Linked DNA regions of Homo sapiens. The protein of the gene in region 7 purifies or fractionates together with the protein of the main gene of each other region. This does not show direct contact. Each region holds a gene or a part of one and is shown on either strand. Other genes may lie near its edges.

Region 1 (3,500 bases), on a different chromosome or scaffold from region 7:
TAACCCTATTAAAAATGTTAGTTTTACATATGATGACGAGTCTTTAAAATAAATTCATTCAGTAATTCTGGTCCTTGAAATTTATCCTAAGGAATTGATACAACGTTGCATTATATAAGAAATGTTAACATAAGCCCAATTGTCCTGCAAGAGGAATGGTTAAATAAAGTATATCATCTTGTTGGAATGATACATAATTCTTGAAAGCTGGTTGGGAACTATGGCATAAAAAAAGTTTTAAGTTCATGAAATTTGAATTCCAGAATGTACTCTGAGCGCACATAAAGAAAAATGTAGATAGTTTTGTTAGTGTATGTGATTTTTAAGTTTTTTCTGTGCAGTAAGCAAACTGGGAAAATAATTGTTTATATGCTTATAATGTTTTGTGCCATGTTCTTGTTTAATTTCTCAAATGCAGTTTTTCTTGGTATCTTTCATAGGAATTGATATGATTTGCTGCTGTCTTACATGTATATATGTGAGAATATCATACATTTTTTTATTTGTTTTTCAGAATAGAAATGTACTGTCGAGAGCTGACAGAAAGGTTTGAAGATGTTTGGGTGGTATCTGGGCCTTTGACCTTACCTCAGACTAGAGGCGATGGAAAGAAAATAGTTAGTTACCAGGTAAGGATGTTTAATAGTCAGGTTTATGTTATCTGTATGAGATTATAATCTCACTTTCCATTCTGCTTTTTATTTTTATTTTTATCATTCAAAAAAAATTTTGCATTCTACTTTTTAATTTCACTTATTCAACAATATTTATTGAACACCTATTAGGAATGATAGGCATAGGGAATATAGTGATGGATAAAAGCAACTATTGACTTCAAGGAACTCACGGTTTAGAGTGGAAAACAGATGTTAACAATTAATTACATTAAAGTGTGACATGCTGTAATAGAGGTAAACACACACAGTGTGGTCTTGTGAAAGGACTGATGGGCTCTACTCATATGAGTCAGGAACGCTTAAAAGAGGAAGTGATATTGAGCTATACCTTGACAGATAAGAGTCAGGAGTGGACCCTGAGGATTCCAGAGGATGGAGCAGGATGAGCACAGGACATTTGTGGTCAACATCAGGGTTTTGAGATTTATATATCATTCATAAAAATTGGAGCTTATGGTACAAAACAGTGTGGGTGGCTCAAGGGGTATGAAGAGTTCCATAACAACAGGTGGACGGGTGAGATAATATGCGACTTTCTATTCTATGATGAAGACTTGGGTTTTAATTTTTAGGCACTAAGAAGTCATAGATTTGTTTTAAGCGTGGGAGAAATATGATATTTGGGTTTTATAAAGAGTATTTTGGCAGCAGCGTGTAAAGAGATAGGTGGGAAAAGGGAGCATTTGAAGAAGAGATTAGAGGCAAGGAGATGAGTTAGGACATACAAGCAGTTGGAGTGAGGAATAATAGAGGAACACAGGAAAGAGTAACCATGAATAAATAACTTGTTTGAGTGAGGAAGAGGGAGAAGTTCCAGGATAACAACTAGATTGCAGACCAGGCTCAGTGGCTCATGCCTGTAATCCCAGCACTTTGGGAGGCCGAGGCAGGCGATCACGAGGTCAGGAGTTCGAGACCAGCCTGGCCAATATGGTGAAACCCCGTCTCTGCTAAAAATACAAAAATTATCTGGGTGTGGTGGCGTGTGCCTGTAGTCCCAGCTACTTGGGAGTCTGAGGCAGAAGAATCGCTTGAACCCAGGAGGCGGAGGTTGCACTGAGCCGAGATCGCACCACTGCACTCCAGCCTGGGCGACAGAGCAAGACTCCACCTCGAAAAAAATAAAAATAAAAATAAAATAAAAACAACCAGATTACAGTGTTACAGTGAGTTGAATAAATGGGAAGAAAAGCTTTTCTTCTAGAAGCTTCTTTTTTTTAATATGCAAGATATGTGAGCACTTTTATAGACTGAAAGAGAGATTAAAGATAGGAGAGTGTAATTAGTGGTGTGAGAGCTTCAGACATCTAATGTTGCTGGGAAATTCTTAGCTAGCCTTTCATATTGGCAATTTACAAAGTGGTATACCTGAAGAGCAGGTGTTCTTAGAAAAAGTTTAACATTTAATCTTATCATGCAGAAATATCCTGAGGATTCTTCCAAGAGGGTGGCTGAAATGTTATACTATACTGTGAGGCTTACAGAGGGCAGGGAACAGGTGGAGTGAAGCAGAAGAGGTGGTAGAGTGAGTAAAAAGAAGCACTGAAGGACTTGCTAATAAGGCCAAAGAGGAGGGGAGGGAACACCTAGCTCAGCTCTGGAAATAAAGTAGATATTTAATAAATGCTGGTTAGGTAAATGATTACTTAAGTCTGTGATAAAATTTAATAACCTGAGGAACAGATTGAGGAACCACCCCCCCCCCAAAAAAAAACCAAAACTTTTAGAGTATATTCTGTCCATTTGACTTGCTTATTATCAGCCTGTCTAGATCAGATGTGCAGTAATGTCCAAGCATCCAAGGATTTGTATAGGTCCATATGAATAGCCCACTTTCTCTTTTTCCACACAAAATTATGACCCAACTACTTCTTTTTGTTAAGTGGAAATGATAGAGTAGTTGTTTTCAAGGATTTGTACATCCTTGGAAAATTCCAGTAGATATGGGAGTGAAGGAAGTCAAAGGAATTAGTATTTTAAAATTAATTCATTTAATATCTCTCCTCCCATATTAATTTCTCTCCTCTGATTAACTTGCTAATTTAATTTTAGTATATTTTATAGTCTTAGGAGAAAAAAAGGCTTAAAGCCCCCTGTATTATTTTTCAAATATTAATTATTCTTGGTCTTTGTTAAATCCTGTTTATTTTATGTCAGAAAAGAGGCTCTTCTAGCTTTGACTTGTATATCTTAAATGGTTAAATTACAGTTTTATTTGTGCTTTGTTTTTATAAAATTGAAAAATTTATATCACTAGCCTACTGTGTAGTAGAACAAAAATTTGTACAATGTTTAAAACGAAAAATTAACCAATAATTACAAGCATTTCACTACATAGATTTTTGTGTGGCTATTTCTGTAAAATATGTGTTGCCCAAATGCCGTAGTGGAAAATGTATTGTTTTTCTTAAGTTGGATATAATTTTTAAAAATAGAACTGATAAAAATATATCTTCTAGTTGTTTCTGCTGAAAAGGCCCAGAAGAATTGGTATGTCATTAGCAATGAACACATCTTGAGACCCAGATATTTGTTTCTAAAAAGCATCTCCTGAAAAGACTCAGCGCTTAGAGAAATGACTGATTTAAGGGGTGGTACAGGGAGAGTACAAAATGGAACATCATATATCAGAAAGCCAAGGAAGTGCTCAGACAAATGGTGGGGATATGTCAGAAGGACATGTGAATCAGCTTGAAGGAGCTCCCACTTACTGTATCTGGTGCTATTGAATATCAAAATAAAATGGATTATAAACCTATTGAATTAAATAAGAATACATACTCAATAAATATGTAAATACATAGGGTGTAAAGAAAAGCTTCT
Region 2 (3,500 bases), on a different chromosome or scaffold from region 7:
GTTGAGGCCTTAAAAGATTGAACTTGTGGGTCTGATAGCCTAATTAGAACAAGCTATGTGTGGGGGCTGCCGTACTCAAATCTGTTTTTAATGGCTCAGTTCAGGGCTGAGGGGGAGCAATGTCAAAATTAAAATTAGAGCTCTAGATTTAATTGGCAGAAGTTTAAGACTTTCACTTTTGGCAGTGCTCAAGCTAAATGACCTTAAGGATAGAGATCTTGGGGTCATGGGGGAGCATCACCCTAACCCCTAGGCTTACTATACCGCATCTCTTTAGGGTCTTTACAGTCACTCCTCAACTTTTTGGACTCAGGACCCCTTTATACTCTTAAAACTTATTTAGGACTTCAAAGACATTTTGTTTATGTGAGTTATATCCTTTGATATTTACCAGATTCGAAATTAAAACTCAGTGAGACATTTAAAAATATTTATTGATTTATTTTAAAGTAGTAAACAATAATACTTTTTATGAATAACAGTAGTTTTTTGGGTTTTTTTGTTTGTTTGTTTGTTTTGAGACGGAGTCTCACTGTCGGTGCAGTAGCACCATCTTGGCTCACTGCAACCTCTGCCTTCCAGGTTCAAGCAATTCTCCTGCTTCAGCCTCCTGAATAGCTGGGACTACAGGCGCCTGCCACCATACCCAGCTAATTTTTCATTTTTAGTGGAGGCAGAGTTTCACCATGTTGGCCAGGCTGGTCTCAAACTGCTGACCTCAGGTGATCGGCCTGCCTCGGCCTGGGGTTACAGGCATGAGCCACAGCACTCGGCCGAATAATAATAGTTTTTAAAACAAAACATTTTAGTAAGAATGGACTGGGTGTGGTGGCTCACTCCTGTAATCCCAGAACTTTGGAAGGTCGAGGCAGGTGGATCACTTGAGCTCAGGAGTTCGAAACCAGCCTGGCTAACATGGTGAAACTTTGTCTTAAAAAATAAATGAATAGCCGGGCGTGGTGGCTCACGCCTGTAGTCCCAGCACTTTGGGAGGCCAAGGCAGGTGGATCACTTGAGGTCAGGAGTTCGAGACCAGCCTGGCCAATATGGCCAAACCCCATCTCTACTAAAAAAAACAAAAATTAGCTAGACGTGGTGGCGAGCGCCTGTAGTCCCACCTACTCGGGAGGCTGAGGCAAGAGAATCGCTTGAACCCAGGAGGCGGAGGTTGCAGCGAGCCAGGATCGTGCCATTGCACTTCATCCTGGGTGAGAGAGTAAGACTCTGTCTCAAAATAAGTAAATTAAGTAAGAATGACATTCTTTGTTTTTTAGTACAATGTTTTAATGTCTGCTCTAACAGAATACAGCTGTGTTCTCATATGTTTTTGCATTCAGTCTGTTGTGATAACCACATGTCCTATAACCTCTGGAAAACTCCACTCTATGCTCCTGAGAGAACAGAGGGACTGGCCCCTGGACCACGCCCTGAAAACTATTGATAGATGTGGTACTGTCAACCATGAAGAGTCAGACAGACCTCAGCACTTACAGATGATAGTTTTGTCACCTTGAACAAATGACTACATCTCTCTGAGTCTGTTTCCTCCTCTGTTGAGAGAGAAGTGTGCTGTAACTCATAGGACAGTGTAGGGATTAATAGAATACTTGTTCTCCTTGATAGGGACATAAAATAGTAGGGTATTTGTTAGTGTCTGGCACTTGGTAGGTGTGTAATAAGCATTATTCCTCAGGGTACTTTTTAAAAAATTGCTTAAAATACCCAAGAGAGACCCATATTATTTTGATTGGGTTTTGTGTGTGTGTTGTGAGTTTATTGTCCAGTTCTCTTCCTGTGCCTGTTCTGTGTGTCTATTGTAATATATAAAACGATTTTATGGTCCTTATTTTCATATTTCTATCTCTAGGAGACATTCAACTCCTTGAAAATGAACAATCCGGCCAGGCGCGGTGGCTCACGCCTGTAAATCCCAGCACTTTGGGAGGCCGAGGCGGGCAGATCACCTGAGGTCAGGAGTTCAAGACCAGCCTGACCAACATGGAGAAACCCCCTCTCTACTAAAAATGCAAAATTAGCCAGCATGGTGGTGCATGCCTGTAATCCCAGCTACTCGGGAGGCTGAGGCAGGAGAATCGCTTGAACCCAGGAGGTGGAGGTTGCGGTGAGCCGAGATCACGCCATTGCACTCCAGCCTGGGCAACAAGAGCGAAACTCCATCTCAAAAAAAAAAAAGAAAGAAAATGAACAATTCTCTTCAAATCCCCAGCTCTTAGCAGAGTATATGTACATTGTAGGCATTCAGTTAGGTTTGTGGAAAGAATGGCATCTGAAACCTCAACCGAAAATTGAACATTCCCCCTCCCTCCTATACCTTCAGTTTTGTTTTCTTGAGTTTAGTTAATCTCAAGTTCATTGGTTATAGTATTGATTGAGCTCCGTAAGGGCAATTTTGAGGAGAATTAGAGCCACAGAACTTAAGGCACCTTCAGGTAGCCATTAGCCACCCTTCTCTTCTCTCCCCTCCCACTGCCATCTTTAACTGGGAAGATGGCAGCAATATGAAAACGTAAGTAGTTTATTTAACAGACACTTAACAGTTGCTAATTTGTTAGCAGCTAATTTGTTGCTAATGTGTTGCAGCACACCTGAAGGGATATAGCTTTTCTGGTGCAGAATCACAGAGTGCCTTGTAATGCCTCTTGTATTGCCATTTATGTTTTCATGATTTTTATTAGTCTCTCTATTGGATATGTTCTTTATCTTCCAGAAGCTTGTAGTCTAAGTGAGAGAAAGGTACATGGGATATATCCCATAGACCATTTTACTGGATGGGGTGAGGAGTGATGCTGAGTGTGTCAGCAGCCAGCTTTAGGGTTCCACAATGGAATCTTGTTGTGATGATGTGTGCTGTTTTTTAAGTCCTACTCAAGGCCCATCAAGCTCCATGTTACGGTTCTTGAAGATCCCTACTGTCGTTTCCAGGCTTTGGATGAGTCTGAAAGCAGGGAAGTAGAAGATAAAGTTGGGGTTGGTTGGTACAGAATTACAGAATGCTAAGGAAAATTAGGCTCAGGATTCAAATTCAAACTCAGGTTAACCCATCTTGAAACAATAGGTTCTTTCCCCTATGTCATGTAATATTCTCAACTATCCTGTAAGGTAGGTAGCGCTATTACCATTTTCCAGGTTAAGAAAGTGATATTCAGGCATGTCCAATAATTTGCTTAAGTTTATGTTTAGCCCGTAGGGTATGAAACCAGGATTTGATTTCTACTCTTGAGCCCAGCAGTCTTTCCATTTAACCATGTTGCATTTATTTTGTAGGACATGGAAGCCTTTCAAGATTTTTTGCCTGCAAGGGGAGTAAATGATAAAACTAGGCCCTTTTTGGACCCAAATGCTCCCAACCAGTACTCACACAAATTGGCTCAAGTTCATGAAGTATTTGTGTGTTTAATCTATTGAAAAGAGATTTTGCTTTTGACTTTGCTAATAAGTATGAATAGTGTATGTAAACATATGAAAGCACCTTTTATAAA
Region 3 (3,500 bases), on a different chromosome or scaffold from region 7:
CCAAGGCAGGTGGATCACAAGGTCAGGAGTTCAAGAGCAGCCTGGCCGAGATGGTGAAACCCTGTCTCTACTAAAAATACAAAAATTAGCTGGGCGTGGTGGCGGGCGCCTGTAATCCCAGCTACTCGGGAGGCTGAGGCAGGAGAATCCCTTGAACCTGGGGGGTGGAGGTTGCAGTGAGCCAAGATCATGCCACTGCACTCCAGCCTTGGTGACAGAGTGAGATTCTGTCTCAAAAAAAAAAAAAAAAAAAGAAAGAAAAGAAAAAAAAAGAAATAGAGCTCCTTGTTGGCTGATTCAGCAGTTCCTCAATGGACCTTGGTTCTGCCCATGTGCAGCTTTCATCCTCAGGTTGGATGTGTGATGGACATAGGAGTTACAGGGGTTACATTCAAAATGACAACATCCAGAGGAAGAAGAGAAGTTGTCTCTTTCTTGTGTCCCTTTTTTAGAATGGAAGAAACTTTTCTTACTAGCCCACTAGCTGATTTTTCTTAAAGCTTTATTGGTAAGGATTCGGTCATATGACCATTCTTAAGCCAATGGCTGGAAAGGAGAATGGGATTTATATTATCAGCTTAGATTAATCATATGGGGATGGAGACTCAACCAGCATGACCATTGGGATCATTAGTAAAATAGTCTGAGTTAACAATTCTTTCCTTAGTCAAAAGGTATGTTTCTTTTCTCATGAACATGGGCTAGCAACTAGAAAATTTAAAATTCACAGTAATTTGCCCTGGGCGCAAAACAGTAAACCCAAGTACTGTGCCACTCGCAGAGTTCTTTTGTTTTTTGTTTTTAAATAGAGACAGGGTCTCCTTATGTTGCCTAGGCTGGTCTTGAACCCCTGGGCTCAAGGGATCCTCTGCCTCGGCCTCCCACAGTGCTAGGATTACAGGCATGAGCTATCACGTCCGGCCCAGCAAAGTTCTAAGAATATTATTTAGCTGTGCTACCAATGCCCAGTGAAAGAAGACTATAGATGTAGAAATAGCCTCTTGAAAGTGCAGGGAAAGGCTAGGGAGGGGTGGGAGCCAGGAGGAGATTATGGCTATGTCTTGACTCACTAACTAGGAGATGTAGAATTAACTGTATTATCTGGACTCTTGGCGTCAGAGTAGAATACCAGGGCTGGAGGTAGCTAGCTGAGCCTGTAATCATGCTTACCATGCAGGACAAGAATGATTTGTTCTGTTTGGGATCGACAGCAGGTGGCAAGCTAAATGCCATTTTTCAAAGAAGCAATTTTTCCAGTTGCATATGGCTGTTCAAATATTGATGAGGGCACATGTGCCTGTCTGCAGCTAAAACTGCCGGCCTCAGCCTGACATGGCTCTACGCTGTCTGGTGACTCTCTTGGGGTAAATAGCCTTAAGCCTTAGCTGGGCATTTGGTAGGATTGAGGCCTATGGTTGCAGGGCATCTGAATTGTCCAAATGAGTGATCTTATGAGTGAGGGAGTGCTGCCCTTGTTTTCTGCCCCTGTGGAATCAGGATGGAAAGGAAATAATGAGACCCACTGTCTCTGGATCAACCTTGAGCCTATTTCTCTTTTTCCCTGCTCAGTGGATGCACCCTGGCCTTTCTAAATGAAGTGCTAAGGGATCTTGATTTTTCCTTGAATCAAATTGTATAGGTTATTCATGAGGCACATGGGAGAAGATGGGCCATTTTATCTATGGGGAATGTAAGACATAGAGCAGTAGAGATTTGCTCAGCACAAGTTCCTTGAGGACAGGAGACATGACTGTCTCTTCTATACCCTCATGGTCCTTAGTCAAGTGCAGGATGCCCAGAGAATCGTAAGTGCTTGATGCATAGTTAAGTAGAGTGAGGCAGTCCTGGAAAATGGATAAGCTGGGTGGCTTTGGCCTGTTTTTATATATTTTTAAAACTCTGGGCAAGACGTGGTAGCCCATGCTTGTAATCCCAGCGCTTTCAGAGGCTGAGGCAGGAGGATCGCTTGAGCCCAGGAGGTTGAGTTTACAGTGAGCTGTGATCACGCCTCTATACTCCGGACTGGGCAACAGAGTGAGACCCTGTCTCAAAATAAATAAATAAATGAGCAAACAAACAAATAAACTCTGGATTCTTGTAAACGGTTTTGCAAATGTGAAAATTCAGTATAATAGTGACTTGGGTAATTCAGTGTTGATATCTTTTCTTGTTTTGATTAGAGAACAAGGTGGGCGTGGGGTGATTGAAACAGTCCCTGTTTCCAGTGGGAGTGGAGTTGATGGCATGGTGGAAAGGGTGGGCTTTCAAGGCAGGCCATTTTGATGTTGAGGGACACAGGCTCTCTGGTGACCTTGGGTACATTACTTCACCTATTTGGATTTCAGTTTCTTTGCATGTCACTGCCTGATCCATAATAGAAGTACTTTTCCAACCTATCCCCTAAGTCAAATGTCTTCTCTTTGAGAACAAGGTGTCCCAACCTTAGGAGTCTGACATCATTCAGAAAGTGGAGAGAGCCTGTCATTATTCTCTCTCATGCATCTTTATTTCCTCTCCTCTCCAGCTCCTACATTGTGCTGTAAACACAGGCCTCTGCCTTGAACACATGTTTGCCAGATGCTCCCTCTTACTCATTTCTTTTCTCTTGTTTACTGCCAGGTTTTCTCAAGTGCGTGGTCACCAGCCATGGCCTCCATTTCCTTAGTCTCTACCCTGTATCCTCTGCCCGCTGGGTCCTACTGCTCAACCTCTCCCTGGCTGCTAAATCCAATAGTCTTTTCTCTGTCCTTACCTGCAGGGCCTCATGGGACTATTTGGCAATACTGACCACAGGATTGTCTCATAACTCGTTTTTGCTTTGGCTTCCATGACACTCTGGCAAGCTTAGTTCTTCCTCCTTTTCTGGCTTCCATACCAGCTGTTAAATGTGAGTGTTTTGGTACTTGGCCTTCTCTTCTCTCTGTATGTTCCCCTGGGCTCTGCTATAAACTTCAGTGCATCTGGTTCTCAGTTTTTTATACTTGTTATTTGTCTTTTGACGAAAAGCAGATCTTTGGAGTTTGACTCAAGCCTGCTAGGTCCACCTGAGCAGCAGAACAGCTCTGGCTGGGTAACCCTTGAATTTTCATGTGTTTCTTGATGTGTTTCAAAGAAGAGCTGGGATGTTGATCCTTCTTATCGCTGCACCCATTTATCTCAGGGCATGTTGAGTGACTCAGCTCTCTTGCAGTGTAAACCCAAGAGGAGCTCATGGGTCATTCCTGGGATTCAGCTGCTTCTACAGTCCGTGTCACTCATTAGAGGCAAGCTGTGTTTTGCCTAGACTTTTGCTTGTACTTTGGCTTGGGAAACCCTCTGTGGCATCCTGTGGGGGTAGGTCTAATCTTTTCGACTGTGTGGAAGGTCAATTCAAAAGTGAGACGTAACTTCTTAGATCACGTACCATATTTTCCTCTTGTGTGTACAGCTGCTCTGGGGCTCAGCTACAGTTACCTCATGTTGAATTGCCTGCTTTTGAGTTGCTGTATTCTGGTGTAGGT
Region 4 (3,500 bases), on a different chromosome or scaffold from region 7:
AACAAACAATAAACCAGTAGGGGCATGGAGTACCAGAAAATATTATAGGCCAGGAAAGAAAAGCAGACAAGGACTGGGAAAGATGTGTGAGCTGAGGACCTAGAGGAAGCCACCACAAGAGCAATGAAGACAGTGGTTGTAGATTAGGGGGTAGGGTGGTACCGCCTACCTAGAGGCGCACATGCAGGTGGAAGGATGCTTCCAGAGGCAGGAGTTTTGGTCTTCAGGGAAGTGTTAGCCACACCCTGCACTGACTTTGCTCTGCTTTCTCCCACAGTCCCCCCAGAGGACACCAGGATTGACGGAGGCCCTGTGATTCTACTGCAGGCAGGCACCCCCCACAACCTCACATGCCGGGCCTTCAATGCGAAGCCTGCTGCCACCATCATCTGGTTCCGGGACGGGACGCAGCAGGAGGGCGCTGTGGCCAGCACGGTGAGCTCCAGCCAGCTCCCCCAGCTCCTCCTGGGCCTAGCCCAGCTCACCTCTCCTTTCCCACAGGGGTTTCACCACAGACTCAGGAGCACACAGACATGAGAGGGGTCTTAGAGGTCATCTGGTTCAACCCTCTCATTCTACAGTTGGGAAAATTGAAACCCAGAGAAGAGAAATGAATTCCTAGGTTTACTGTGTCATTCAGTAGCTGAACAGAGACTAATAGTAATAATAAGTTGCCATGGATTAAGCACCTACTGTGTGCCAGACACCGTGCATGCTAAACACTTTATGGACAGTCTCTCTTAATCTTCATAGGAGTCCCATAAAGGAGGCATTATTTCCAACTCACAAAGGAGGAAACTTGCGCTCAGAGAGGTTGAGTGACTTGTCCAAGGTCACACAGCTGGCACAGAGCGGGGGTTTGTACCTGGGTCTGACTGTGCTTTCTCTCCACTGATCACTTCTACCTCTTTCCTTCAGCGTCTGGTTGTCAGATTATTCCAGTCATCACAACAAAGAGGCTGGGGAAGCAGAGATCCTTGTATACATTTTATAGATGAGGAAGCCATGAAAGATATCAAGTGACTTGCCCAGGATTACATAGCAAAGCGGACAGTACAGCTGGAATTCAAAGCCAGATTTCCTGGTTGGGGTTACCCTGCCAGTTGTGGGTAAACATATGTGTATTCAGCCCTTTGCTGGTGCTGCAGGAGCACTTCTCAGTGTGGAGACAGAGATGTTCCCATGCTCCTCAGCAAGCAATCCCAGGAATACCTGGCTTCTGGCTTCAGTTCTGCCCTTAACACACTGTGTGACCTTGGATAATTCGCTTCACTTTTTTCTGGCCTTAGTTTCTCATTTGACAAATGATAATTCAGCCTCAGTGGTACTTAACCTTTTCACAACCAAAAACTGTGATTTTTCTTCATCAGGGCTACATGTTTTTAGATATTTTGGCAACCAAACAAGTTGGTTTGTTAATATCCATTTGTCATCTACCCCCATTTTTCATATTCATTAAAGACAATGGAGCTTCAAAGCAGCACAAGGGAGCCAGTGTTATTGCACTGGCCCTCAACTGGGCCTGTCCAGCAAAGCTGCATGCATGGTGGTCAAACAACGGGGTCTTACTTTGATTAATAATATGGCTTCCCTCAGGCAGTTTGCAATATAGAAAACAGATCAAGGGTTCCTGTGACCATATTTAGGGACCCCTGGCTGTCACTGAGCAAGTGTAAGACTTCGAGCCTGTGAGTCCCTTCCCTGCCCTCAAGGAGTTTACAGTTTAGCAGAAGAAACCCAACCCTGAAACACGCACACATGGTGCCTACAAGCAAGGTTGGATGTGTCTAGAGCTGTGAGCAGGACACACTGACTATAAGGGCATAAATTCAGTCTGGGAGAGAGTTCTGAGGGCTGGGCTGGCTGAAGAAGGCTTTCCAGAAGAGAAGGGATTTGCGCTGGACTCACAAAGAGTGAACTCTAATATAAACTGTGGCCTTAATAATAATATATTAGTTTCGGTCCATCAGTTGTAACAGACTTATCACTCTAATGCAAGGTGTTAAGGTGTTAGTAATGGGGGAAAGTGTAAGGTCGGGGAGGAGGGTATATGGAAACTCCCTGTACTTTCTGCTCAATTTTTCTGTAAACTTAAAACTGCTCCAAAAGATAGTCTGTGATGTGGGCATGATGGCACACTCCTGTAGTCGCTGCTACTCAGAAGGCTCAGGCAGGAGGATTGCTTGAGTCCAAGCTTTGGAGGCCAGCCTGGGCAACATAGCAAGACCCTAAAAATATATAACTTTTAATTAAAAGATAATTAGTAGTCTATTGATTAAACACACACACACACACACACACACACAAGGGAAGAGGTTGTGGGAGTGAAGGGGATTGAGCTTTAAGTTAAAGTACCCCTCCAGCCCAAGCCCATCTCTGAGTGAGGTCAACTTAAGAGCAGAGGAGGGGGCTTTTAGCTTAACCATATCTCCCACCCTTGTCATGTTCCAGGAATTGCTGAAGGATGGGAAGAGGGAGACCACCGTGAGCCAACTGCTTATTAACCCCACGGACCTGGACATAGGGCGTGTCTTCACTTGCCGAAGCATGAACGAAGCCATCCCTAGTGGCAAGGAGACTTCCATCGAGCTGGATGTGCACCGTGAGTGGGCTGGGGGGAGCAGTCTGGAGCAGGGGGGTGGAAGAAGGGGTGTGTTTGAGAAGCACACTCTTAGTTTGAGAAACACAAACTAAGAGTCCCCCTATGGTCCCCAGGACAAACGCTTGCCTTCTTCACATCTTTCATTCCCTGGATTGAACCATGGGGACTAAGGGCTGGTAGAGCATTGGCTGTGGAGTCAGGCAGTCCCCAGGTCTAAACCAGCCTGTTATTAGTCAATGGTTTACACTCTCTGGGCCTCGGTTTCCAGTTCTGTATACTGTATATTGCAAAAGATAAAATACTGGCCTACAGTCCCTTATTCAAACTAAAAGTGGTTCGATGGTGCAGCCTGAACCAAGGCTCTTCATAGTCTTTTATTTAATTTAGTCTTAAGTTTCACTGCAGATGTATTCATATGTGTGACTATGGGATGTGGCCCAGATGCTGCTGGGGATCTTACACAGTAAACGCTCTATGCACAACCATTGCCTTTCTAAATGTGAAAAATTCTAAATTCTGAAATGCATCTAGTCCTAAGGGTTTCAAATAAGGGATTGTGGACCTGGACCTGCTTCCTGGGGTTGTGAGCATTAAATGAGATATAGCAGAAGAGCATCTAGCATGGAGTATTCTTACCTGGTAGGTGTGTAATAAATTGTCTCTCCCCAGGGAACCATGGGGGTGTGGGCAGCAACTGGGGATGCCCACACCCCATCCTTTTTAGTGAGCCAAGCAAGCTCACACTGACGCCTAGTGGCCACAGTGGGTCATTAGTCCATTGAGTTATTTGTCCCTTTGGTGCCTTCATTGGTGGTCACCCTAGCAGGCCCCCTAGAGGCTCCATGTGCAAAAGGTGAGGAAGACAGTGTGTTAACTGGAGCCGATACACTGCAACCTC
Region 5 (3,325 bases), on a different chromosome or scaffold from region 7:
TCAACTTAACCTTCAGGCCCTCTCCCTTTCCTGGAGTTTGGAGGAGGGGCTGAAAGTCCCAACCCTCTAACCCTGCCTTGGTCTTTCTGGTGACCAGCCCCATTGAAGCAGCCCAGGGGCTGCCAGCCATCAGTCAGTGCCTAAGCATACAAAAAGACATCATTTTGGAGATTCCAGGAATTTTAGGAATTATGTACTGGGAGAGAGGGTCAAACACCAAATATATATTTCACAATATGAAAGAGCCCAATTTACGTATTTCACGATTCCCTTCTTGTTACAGCTTAACGAGATTTTTTTATTTTCCTGACTTTTCGCTTTGGAGAATTAGTCAATAGTTTAGGTCTGTCTTGTTCGTTTAATATGGGGTTTGAATTTGAGATGGGGCTGACGTCACTTTGGGGCCCTTTTCTTTTCTTCTTTTTTTTTTTTTTTTTTTTTGAAACGGATTCTCGCTCTGTCGCCCAGGCTGGAGTGCAGTGGCACGATCTCGGCTCACTGCAAGCTCCGCCTCCCAGGTTCACGCCATTCTCCTGCCTCAGCCTCCCGAGTAGCTGGGATTACGGGCGCCCGCCACCACGCCGGGCTAATTTTTTGTATTTTTTAGTGGAGACGGGGTTTCAACATGTTAGCCAGGATGGTCTCGATCTCCTGACCTTGTGATCCGCCCGCCTCGGCCTCCCAAAGTGCTGGGATTACAAGCGTGAGCCACCGCGCCCGGCCCCTTTGGGGCCCTTTTGTACAGCTCAGAGTTGGCCTGGCTGCAGGGCTGGGACTATGGAATGGCAAGGAGGTGCCTCAGGTGCCAAATATTAGGTTGGTGAAAATTAATTGCGGTTTTGTCATTGAAAGCAATGGCAAAACCGCAATTACTTTTGCACTAACCTAATATAAGGAGGCGTGCAGTCTGGGGGTCAGAGTGAGTGTGGAGGTCTCGGAGAATGGCTGCTGGCCTGGAGGAGGCTGCTAGGTCTGGGTCCCTGCCAGCCTTGTGGGGACCAACTGCTGTATCTTGCAGGAATTTGCACGCTGGGTATGCAAGAGGCTTCATCTTTTTTGGAGTCTGGGAGCGCTGCAGTGGCAGAACCGACACGGCGGGAGGCGCTAGAGGACCCGGGGTGGACTCGGACGTGGGGTCAGGGAACCTGGCATTTATTCCTGCCCGGACTGCCCACTCATGCTGCGGAGTGTGGGAGGCGTGGGGAGATCGGCCGCCAGAGGGACGTGCGCCGTAGCCAATCAGCGTGTGAAGCAGGGCGCTATGTGGTTGGGGCCTCCCGTAACTCTTTACGGCCCCAGAGTGGCCCCCAGGTCCCCGGCATCCCCACATCGCCCTGTGAGGCAGATGAGCAGAGCCGGAAGGGCCGCACGGGAGGAACAGGGGTTGGCTTGTCCGGAGGCGGACGGATAACGCGACCCCGATCCCTGCGGTACTCTGCAGTCATGTGACTCGCCGCCTGGCGCATTTCTTCAAGTGCCCACCCCCTCGAGAAGGTGCCCCTGGGGTGGGGGCTTCACATCTGCTTTTGTTTAGTGGTCAGAGGACTACAGAGGGAAGCTCTCAGGACAAGGCCCCCAACCCTGTACTCCAGTCCTGCATCCTTAGGCCCCTCTCATGGACAATAGGGTCTTAGAAAAAGCGCCAGGGTGCTGGGCATGGACCCCTCAGGACAGACGCATTGGGAGGGGTCCAAGGAAACCATGAGAACCTCAAGCCCAGGTTGGGGAATCGGCCCGAGGGGAAAGTGGGTGTCTCTGGGCCTTGTCCTGCCTGGGTCCTGGACAGGGGGCTAGGTGGCTGCCCAAGCTGCAGTCTTGTGTCTAGGCTAAAACTGTAAGCTGGGAAAGACCCCATGGTCTGCCCACCACCCAGTTGACCCCCAAAAGACAGAAAGGCCACCCCACACTGGCCTGGAGCCCCAGTCCTGAGGTGCTGCAGCACCAGTGTGGGGTGGCCCGGCACTTGCCCCTACAGGGTTACAACCCATCCTTTCTGCTTCTCCAGGCCAGAAGCCAAGGAGTCCTCAGTGACGGTGGGATCCACAACATCTCCACATCGCTGTCCCCACCCAGCCAGGGCAGCGCCAGCACTAGCTCAGACGCAAGGTTGGTGTGAGAACCAGTGGGTGTGGCCAGGCGCGGTGGCTCACGCTTGTAATCCCAGCACTTTGGGAGGCTGAGGCGGGCAGATCACGAGGTCAGGAGATCGAGACCACGGTGAAACCCCGTCTCTACTAAAAATACAAAAAATTAGCCGGGCGTGGTGGCGGGCGCCTGTAGTCCCAGCTACTCGGAGAGGTTGAGGCAGGAGAATGGCATGAACCCGGGAGGCGGAGCTTGCAGTGAGCCAAGATCGTGCCACTGCACTCCAGCCTGGGCGACAGAGCGAGACTCCGTCTCCAAAACAAACAAACAAAAAGAACCAACGAGCAGAGGAGCATGTGGGCCTTCAGACGGGGATGTGGCTGGATCTGGTTGTCCCACCTGCCAGGGCCAGCTGCAGTGCTATGGTCTGCAAAGTGCTGGCAGGTGCCTGGCCCATGCTCCCTGTGACAACACAAACTGAGCTAATGTCCCCAGAGTGTTTAGCTCTGATGCTTGGTGCCCAGGGACACTGATGTCTGTTAACATGGACAAAGTACACCAGATGCTGTGTGGTCATGGGCTCTGTGTCCACTCCATCTCTGCCACTCTGTGGCCGTGTGGATCACCCTGGCATGTCTCAGTGTCCTCAACTGTGACTGGGTCCATAAGAACAGCCTGCTGTCATAACAGGGGTGGGAGGTGGGACTGGAAACAGTCCTCAGGGTGGAAACCCTTCGTCCGTGCTCAGCATGTGGGAGGCCCATTGGTAGTGGCTGAGTTCTTAGTCCATTAGTCATTCTGATGGCCCCTTGTGGAGGGTGTTTACTGTGCACCTTTTCCAGATGGGGAAAGTGGGGTTGGATGGGGCTGACGTTCCCAAGGCTGCCAGGAGAGGAACTGGCAGAGCAGAAGCCTAGTTCCATCAGGCCCCCTGTCAGTCTTGGCCCCAGCGAGCAGTGAGGCAGCCCCATCTGCCCCACCTCCCTCCCAGATCCACGTCTAGAGCCTCCCAAGGGCTTCCACCACTGACGGGATTTTGCTTCCTTCCTTAGGACGGAACCGCTGGACTCCAGGTTCCTTGCCTGGGAGTAGGAGAAATCCACCTGCTGGGGGCTGAGTGTGGCCTGAGGGACAGGCCCTGGGTCCCGGGATGCCCCTGCCCGAGCCCAGCGAGCAGGAGGGTGAGAGTGTGAAGGCCAGCCAGGAGCCATCCCCCAAGCCAGGCACAGAAGTCATCCCG
Region 6 (3,500 bases), on a different chromosome or scaffold from region 7:
TTAATGTCTTCGGTTTAAAGGCATCTGTTTTGCAGGTGCTCCATATACATCTGTGTATTGTTTCAATAGGCCTCTGTGAGGTGAGCCAGAACTATGGAAGTTGCAGGTGAGCCCTGCCCTCCATAGTGTGACTCACCTGTTTCAGAGGGTTTTGGATTGGCGGGTGACTTAGAGGCCTTCTAGTATACCACTGTTCAGTAAAACTGCCTGTGATGAAGGAGATGTTTAGTTCCTGAGTTTCTAATGTGGTCGCGACTAGCCATATGTAGTGCTGAGCGTTTGGAATGTGGCTAGTGTAACTGAGGAACTGAATTTTAATTTTCTTTAATTCTAATTAATTTACATTTATATTTCAACAGCCATAGGGGGCTAGTGGCTAGTATTGGACAGTGTAGATCTAAACCATCTCTTCTAGGATCCCTTTAAGTGGTCTCCCAGCTGTCACTCAGAAACTCCCCCGATGGGGAATCAATAGTTTGTTTTACCTGTGTTAGTTTGTATTTTAAAAGTGATACTTGTTCATTGAAATCACTTCAAAAGTCAAATATAGACCGCGAAAAGTGAATGCCCCTCACCTCTCCGTCTCCAGTGCATCTTCCCTGTCTGAGGCGCAGAGATTCAAGGATGGAAGCTGAAATGGCTCTCCTGATTCCCAGTTGTTCCCTTTGCCTGACTGGCCTGCCCTCATAGCAAGGCCATCTGGGAGGAGGGTGGAGACAGAGAATTCAGATGCTTGAGGTCATAGACTGGCTCTGAGCCTAGAATCAAGTTACCCAGCGAAATGGTATTTTTCTTTAGGGGTTTTCCCTGGCCAAGAGCACCCAAGATTGTTGGGTTTCTGCCCTATTGTTTGGTCACTGTGGCTGCAGGTTGGTCCAGTTTCATCTCACTAAAATCTCAGTAAAATTGCTTAAAAGAACATTTTGCCCCTTTCAGTTTGGGTTTCAGGTTTTTTCACCATTGTCATGTTCCTTGATTTCTTGGTAGCACTTTGTTCTCATGGAAAGAACGTTCTCCCTCATGGGAGTATTGGTGAGCAAGAAGGAGAGCATATTAAAAAGTGATTTAATATATCTGAAAAGCACCCCGACTCCACTCATCAGCACTTTTTACTGCTGGGGAATGCAGCTGATCCCTATGAAGACACAGCCATCCGTTTAGTATGATACCCTGGAGCAGGGAAGGGAGTGGTGAGAGGGAAAGTGGAGTGGCTTTTTAGGATTTATTTCCTTTTTTGAATACTTGTGATTTCCTTCTTCAGCAAAGGTTGGTAGTGCTACCTGTGTGGCATAGCAGAAAGATGATAGGTGATGGAGACAGGCAGTCCGAGGATCAACTCCTATCTCTACCATCTGCTGATTCCCTATTTACTTAACACTTCAGTGGCTTAGTGTGTTCATGTGCCAAGAATTGGAATGATAAGGTTGTTAGAAGAGCTAAAAAAATAAAAGTTACGGTATAGTAATTGGCACATAGCAGGTGATTAGTAACTTTACCTTTCTTTAAAAGACTTTATGAGTAATCTTTTCTCCTGTTAGTGGCCTTACATTTCTTAGACGGGAGGTACCAGGGCTCCTCAGTTGAGTTTTCCCAGGTTTTTGAGTGTGCATTTGCCATTTCCTTTTCCAGCTTCCTTGTATCCATTGTATATGTTAAATGTTTAATGACTATGTCTTTGTGGGGCGGGGTAGGGGGGGCACATCCTAATTTATAGTGTTTATCAGTTCTCTAGTATAAATACCACCACTGTATTTGTTTGTTTTACGTTGCTTATAAAGGAATACCTGAGACTGGATAATTTGTAAAGAAAAGACTTTTATTTTGGCTTATGGTTCTGCAGACTGTACAAGAAGCATGGTACCAACTTCTGCATTTGGTGAGGCTTCAGGAAGCTTACAATTATCACAGAAGGTGAAGGGAGACCAGGTACATCACATAGCAAGAGAGGGAGCAAAAGAGATGCCAGGCTTTTTTCAACAACAGCTCTAGAGTGAGAACTCACTCAATACCATGGGGAAGGCACCCAGCCATTCATGAGGGATCTGCCCCCGTGACCAGCATGGTGGCTCCGACATTGGGGATCACATTTCAACGTGAGATTTGTAGGGGACAAACATCCAGATGATTTCACTACGGCCAGTTTCAAGCTATCAACATGATGTCAACCAGTTTGCAAAATTTTAACGATTGGGTCTTTTGAGTGTTCAAGCCATCTGGAGCACACTGCTGCCAGTAACCCTTGCTTCCTGAGGACTAGTGTACTAAGCATAGGGCTTCATATCTCTTGTTTAGCCCAGAAGAAGCGGAAAAAGGACAGGAAGAAGCAGCGGCCTGCTGATGCGGAGGACCTCCCTGCAGCCCCGGGGCAGTCCATTGATAAGAGTTACCTGTGTTGTGAACACCACAAAGCCATGATCGCTGGCCTTGCCCTGCTGAGAAACCCAGAGCTACTCCTAGGTGAGAGAGATGCCACTGCCTTCCACAGAAGGGAGCATAAAGATTACAGACCTAAACAATTGGTGTCACTTGCATTGTAGTTGAAGAACAGCAATTACAAGCTGACAATGTATCTTTCTTCATCTCAACCATGTTATAAGTTAATGAGCATTCTAATTAACTGTTGCCTCAAACTCAACCTGTTATATTGAAATTGTATTGAAATATGTTAGAGTCTAAGTGGTATTTTTTCTGTTCATTTCTTTTTAAAATTAAGGTATATCATGTATTCAATGAGATATGTAAAAATACACAGATTTTAATTGTTCAGCTTTTCTGTAATGCATTATTTGAACAAAAGATGCAATTCTATCTTGAATTTCTACTTTCTGAAAAGATTCATATTATAGTTAATGCAGTCATAGCCTTATCGCTAATAGCAGGTTTGGATCTGACTGCATTAGTGAAATTGTTCATGTTTTGTCTGTGATTGTAACCGTTTTCACCTGAAGTCCCTGAATGTGCCTTCTTGGAATACCCTATACTTTTGTCCTATCTTAGTGTTGATGTATGTCACTAGAATCTCAGTTCTTAGATTTAATTCTCAGGGTCTGTCTCCTTCGGGTGACTTTTGTTGTCTTCCTTTGATCCCCCTGTGGTGGCTGTGCTCTGTGCTTAGGAGTAGGAGTTGGGCCTTTGTTTTCCTGTGATTTGTGGAACTTGAATGGCTTACCCTTACTTGGTGAGGGTGTCTGAGAAGACGGTGTGGCCTTTTGAGTCAAGGGCAAGGGACATTGCACCTCTGCTGCCTTGTAATCATGAGCAAGATTGTTTGGCCACTCTTCTTCCCTTTCCTAGAGAGGGTCTAATAATTCTTATAGTGAAGAAGTCTTTTTTTTTGAGACAGGGATTTACTCTTGCCCAGGCTGGAGTGCAGTGGTATGATCGCAGCTTACTGCAGCCTTGACCTCCTTAGGCTCCCACGTCAGCTTACCGTGTAGCTGGTACCACAGGTGTGTGTCACCATGCCCAGTTAATTTTTCTACTTTCTATAGACAGGATTT
Region 7 (3,500 bases):
GAGCATGGCAAGGATGTGAGTGCTGGGATAAAGCTGGAGCACAAGAGGGTTCTTAGTGATGTGGCTCTGACAGCCTTCAGCTTACATTGCCAGAGCCACGAGATGTCTGTGAGCAAATCAGACGGTCGGCTGAATAGGCCACAGTCCGTCCTCAGCCGAAGGAGAGGCACTGTTGGGGATAATGAATTCATTTGGAAAACGTTTACGAGCTCCTCTCCTGTGCCAGGTGCTGTGGTGCGTGCTGAGCAAGCCATGTGGCTCTTCACGGCTGGACGCCTGCCCTGTGAACACATGCGCACAGACTGCAGTGCTGGGCAGGTGGCAGTCCCGGGACCCTGGCAGAGTAGCAAGGCCCTCACTGGGTGGAATGCTCATGTCCTCCTTACACAGGTCCCGCTTCCGCCGAGACCTGGCTGTACAGCAGGAACCGATCTGGCTGCTGAGGTCAGGGGAGGGTGTATAGGAGTGGGGAGCGCTTGACTGGGGAGGAGGGGCATGGAGGGTGGTGAGCAGGCACTGGAGCTGCTTCCAAGGCCATGGTGAAGATCTGAGCTGTGGTCCTAAGAGCCATGAGAGAGTGTTGAAGGGTTTTAAACAGGGAGGGGTGTGATACTGTGACACTGTTTGTCATCCTTGAAGAGAGGGCGAGAGAGGAAACTGGTGGGCTTCTGAGGAGGCCGAGGCCAGATGCTGTGGGGTTGGAGAGGATCGGGCATGTTCAGGGTACACATGGCACACTCAGGATTCACTGATGGGCGGGGTGCTGGGGGTCGAGGTGATCTCCAGGGTGCTGGCCTGAGGGGATGGGAGTGTGGTAGGCAGAATACTGGCCCCCTAAAGGTGTCCTCATCCTCATCCCTGACCCCTGTGAATATGTTCTGTTACATGGCAGAGGGGAATTAAGGTCGCTAATCAGCTGACCTGAAATGGGGGAATTGTCCTGTTACCTGGTGGGCCCAGTGTAACCTCACGAGCTTTTGGACGTGGTCAGAGACATGGTGTGGGATGGACTCCACCCACAGCGGCTGGCTTTGCAGATGGAGGAGGCAGCCACCAGGAATGTGGCGCGGCTTCTAGAAGCTGCGAAAGGCCTTCTGCAGATGGCTAACAGGAGAGCAAGGCCTTGCTCCTGCATCCGCCAGGAGCTGAATTCTGCCGCCAACCGGAGTGAGCAGGAAAGGGGTTCTCCCTTCGAGCCTCCCGGAAGGGGCACAGCTGGCTGACGCCTGGACTTCAGTGTGATGAGACCCATGCCGGATTTCTGACCTTCAGAACTTCGAGATAGTGAATGCATGTTTTAAGCTGTGGTAATTTGTTACAGCAGCTGTGAAGAGTTGGGGACTGTGCCGAGGGATGTCTGACAGGGAATGGCAGGTGGCCCAGCACCTCCCTCAGCAGAGTCCTGCACTTGGATGTGGGCAGGAGTACCTTGGTCAGCGGCCTTGGGGGTGGTCACTGGGTAACCTCCACAAAGTGTGTTTAAACCCAGGGGACTGAAGTCAGCTCGGAGGGTTCTTCCTATGTCCTATGTCCTGCTCAGGCCTAGGAACCAAATAGAGCCCTGCCTCTTTCCTCAGAATGTTGGCTGCTGCTTCTGGCCGCCTTGCTTTCTTGTGTTTTTTATAAATCTGTATTGCCTTTTGCTTATGTTTTGAAGAGATTGTTTATTGGGTAAGAACCCTCAGTCCTGTTTTCCATGCAGAGGGAAGCCCCGGAGTCTTGTTCCGGCAGTGATTGTGTGTTCCCCGCCAGTTGGGTTTCTCTTCTTGTTTGTGAGTGGAGATGACCTTCCTGTGACGGGGGCCGCGGAAGAGCTGGTGGGTGAGATTTTGCTGTAGGTGCAGTTCCTTTTCTTGTTCCTTTCAGCGGTTACTTTCCATGTTATTAAATGTCTTACTTTGTCCAGAAACACTTTGAAAAATAAATTGAATGTGAATCATATTTCCTTTCTCTTACATATTCGTCTGATAGAGTAAATCTGGACTCTGGGTTAATTTTAAATGAAGACAAAAATGATTGATCCCTGACAATTTTGGATTATTTATTTATTTGTTTCTTAAGTAACAAGAGCAGGAGGAAGTACCCCATCGCCTCCAAGTGTTTTTGAGGAACCATGGGATTCCTCATGGAATTGAGGAGAACAAGTCTTCGGAGACCACTTGTCTGTTTTTCTTTCTGTTTTTCTTTTTAATTTTTTATTTCTATAGATTACTGGGGAACAGGTGGTGTTTGGTTACATGAGTAAGTTCTTTAGTGGTGATTTGTGAGATTTGGGTGCACCTGAGCAGTATACACTGAACAGTGTATACTGAACAGTGCACCCGAGCAGTATACACTGAACCCAGTCTTTTATCCCTCACCCGCTTCCCATCCTTTTCCTCTGAGTCCCTGAAGTCTATTGTGTCATTCTTATGACTTTGCATCCTCATGGCTTAGGTCCTACTTACTATTTTTTTTTTTTTTGAGATGGAGTCTTGCTCTGTTGCCCAGGCTGGAGTGGAGTGGCGCGATCTCAGCTCATTGCAACCTCTGCCTCCCGGGTTCAGGTGATTCTCCTGTCTCAGCCTCCCGAGTGGCTGGGATTATAGGCACATGCCACCATGCCCGCCTAATTTTTGTATTTTTAGTAGAGATGGGGTTTCACCATGTTGGCCAGGCTGGTCTTGAACTCCTGACCTCAAGTGATCCACCCGCCTCGGCCTCCCAGAGTGCTGAGATTACAGGCGTGAACCACCATGCCTAGCCGTTAGCTCCCACTTATGAGTGAGAACAGGTGATGTTTGGTTTTCCATTCCTGAGTTACTTTACCCAGAATTGTTGTCTCCAATCTCATCGAGGTCTCTGCGAATGCCAGTAATTCATTCCTTTTTATGGCTAAGTAGTATTCCATCGTATATATACATATACATATATATGTATACACACATATACATATATATGTATACACACATATACATATATATGTATACACACATATACATATATATGTATACACACATATACATATATATGTATACACACATATACATATATATGTATACACACATATACATATATATGTATACACACATATACATATATATGTATACACACATATACATATATATGTATACACACATATACATATATATGTATACACACATATACATATATATGTATACACACATATACATATATATGTATACACACATATACATATATATGTATACACACATATACATATATATGTATACACACATATACATATATATGTATACACACATATACATATATATGTATACACACATATACATATATATGTATACACACATATACATATATAGTATACACACATATACATATATATGTATACACACATATACATATATATGTATACACACATATACATATATATGTATACACACATATACATATATATGTATACACACATATACATATATATGTATACACACATATACATATATACATATATACACAAACACACATGCACCGCACTTTTT

What was found.
Region 1: the proteins of TBC1D22A (region 7) and EXOG purify together in Homo sapiens (affinity purification with mass spectrometry; 3 studies listed by BioGRID and IntAct, with this or other methods). This does not show direct contact.
Region 2: the proteins of TBC1D22A (region 7) and SUPT6H purify together in Homo sapiens (affinity purification with mass spectrometry; 3 studies listed by BioGRID and IntAct, with this or other methods). This does not show direct contact.
Region 3: the proteins of TBC1D22A (region 7) and CREB3L2 purify together in Homo sapiens (co-immunoprecipitation; one large-scale study listed by IntAct). This does not show direct contact.
Region 4: the proteins of TBC1D22A (region 7) and KIRREL1 purify together in Homo sapiens (affinity purification with mass spectrometry; 3 studies listed by BioGRID and IntAct, with this or other methods). This does not show direct contact.
Region 5: the proteins of TBC1D22A (region 7) and FLYWCH2 purify together in Homo sapiens (affinity purification with mass spectrometry; 3 studies listed by BioGRID and IntAct, with this or other methods). This does not show direct contact.
Region 6: the proteins of TBC1D22A (region 7) and METTL13 purify together in Homo sapiens (affinity purification with mass spectrometry; 2 studies listed by BioGRID and IntAct, with this or other methods). This does not show direct contact.

The regions. Positions count from the first base shown.
Region 1 is NC_000003.12:38,506,340-38,509,839, forward strand, and holds part of EXOG (nuclease EXOG, mitochondrial isoform 1 precursor), read left to right. Parts: intron 1-514; coding exon 515-629; intron 630-3,500. UniProt on the Homo sapiens protein: Endo/exonuclease with nicking activity towards supercoiled DNA, a preference for single-stranded DNA and 5'-3' exonuclease activity.
Region 2 is NC_000017.11:28,668,705-28,672,204, forward strand, and holds part of SUPT6H (transcription elongation factor SPT6), read left to right. Parts: exon of another isoform or gene 1-2,527; intron 2,528-3,500.
Region 3 is NC_000007.14:137,992,087-137,995,586, reverse strand, and holds part of CREB3L2 (cyclic AMP-responsive element-binding protein 3-like protein 2), read left to right. Parts: intron 1-3,500. UniProt on the Homo sapiens protein: Transcription factor involved in unfolded protein response (UPR).
Region 4 is NC_000001.11:158,084,145-158,087,644, forward strand, and holds part of KIRREL1 (kin of IRRE-like protein 1 isoform 1 precursor), read left to right. Parts: intron 1-277; coding exon 278-435; intron 436-2,451; coding exon 2,452-2,602; intron 2,603-3,500. UniProt on the Homo sapiens protein: Required for proper function of the glomerular filtration barrier. It is involved in the maintenance of a stable podocyte architecture with interdigitating foot processes connected by specialized cell-cell junctions, known as the slit diaphragm.
Region 5 is NC_000016.10:2,893,215-2,896,539, forward strand, and holds part of FLYWCH2 (FLYWCH family member 2), read left to right. Parts: intron 1-2,005; 5' UTR 2,006-2,106; intron 2,107-3,137; 5' UTR 3,138-3,235; coding exon 3,236-3,325.
Region 6 is NC_000001.11:171,788,160-171,791,659, forward strand, and holds part of METTL13 (eEF1A lysine and N-terminal methyltransferase), read left to right. Parts: intron 1-2,292; coding exon 2,293-2,457; intron 2,458-3,500. UniProt on the Homo sapiens protein: Dual methyltransferase that catalyzes methylation of elongation factor 1-alpha (EEF1A1 and EEF1A2) at two different positions, and is therefore involved in the regulation of mRNA translation.
Region 7 is NC_000022.11:46,769,150-46,772,649, forward strand, and holds part of TBC1D22A (TBC1 domain family member 22A), read left to right. Parts: intron 1-3,500. UniProt on the Homo sapiens protein: May act as a GTPase-activating protein for Rab family protein(s).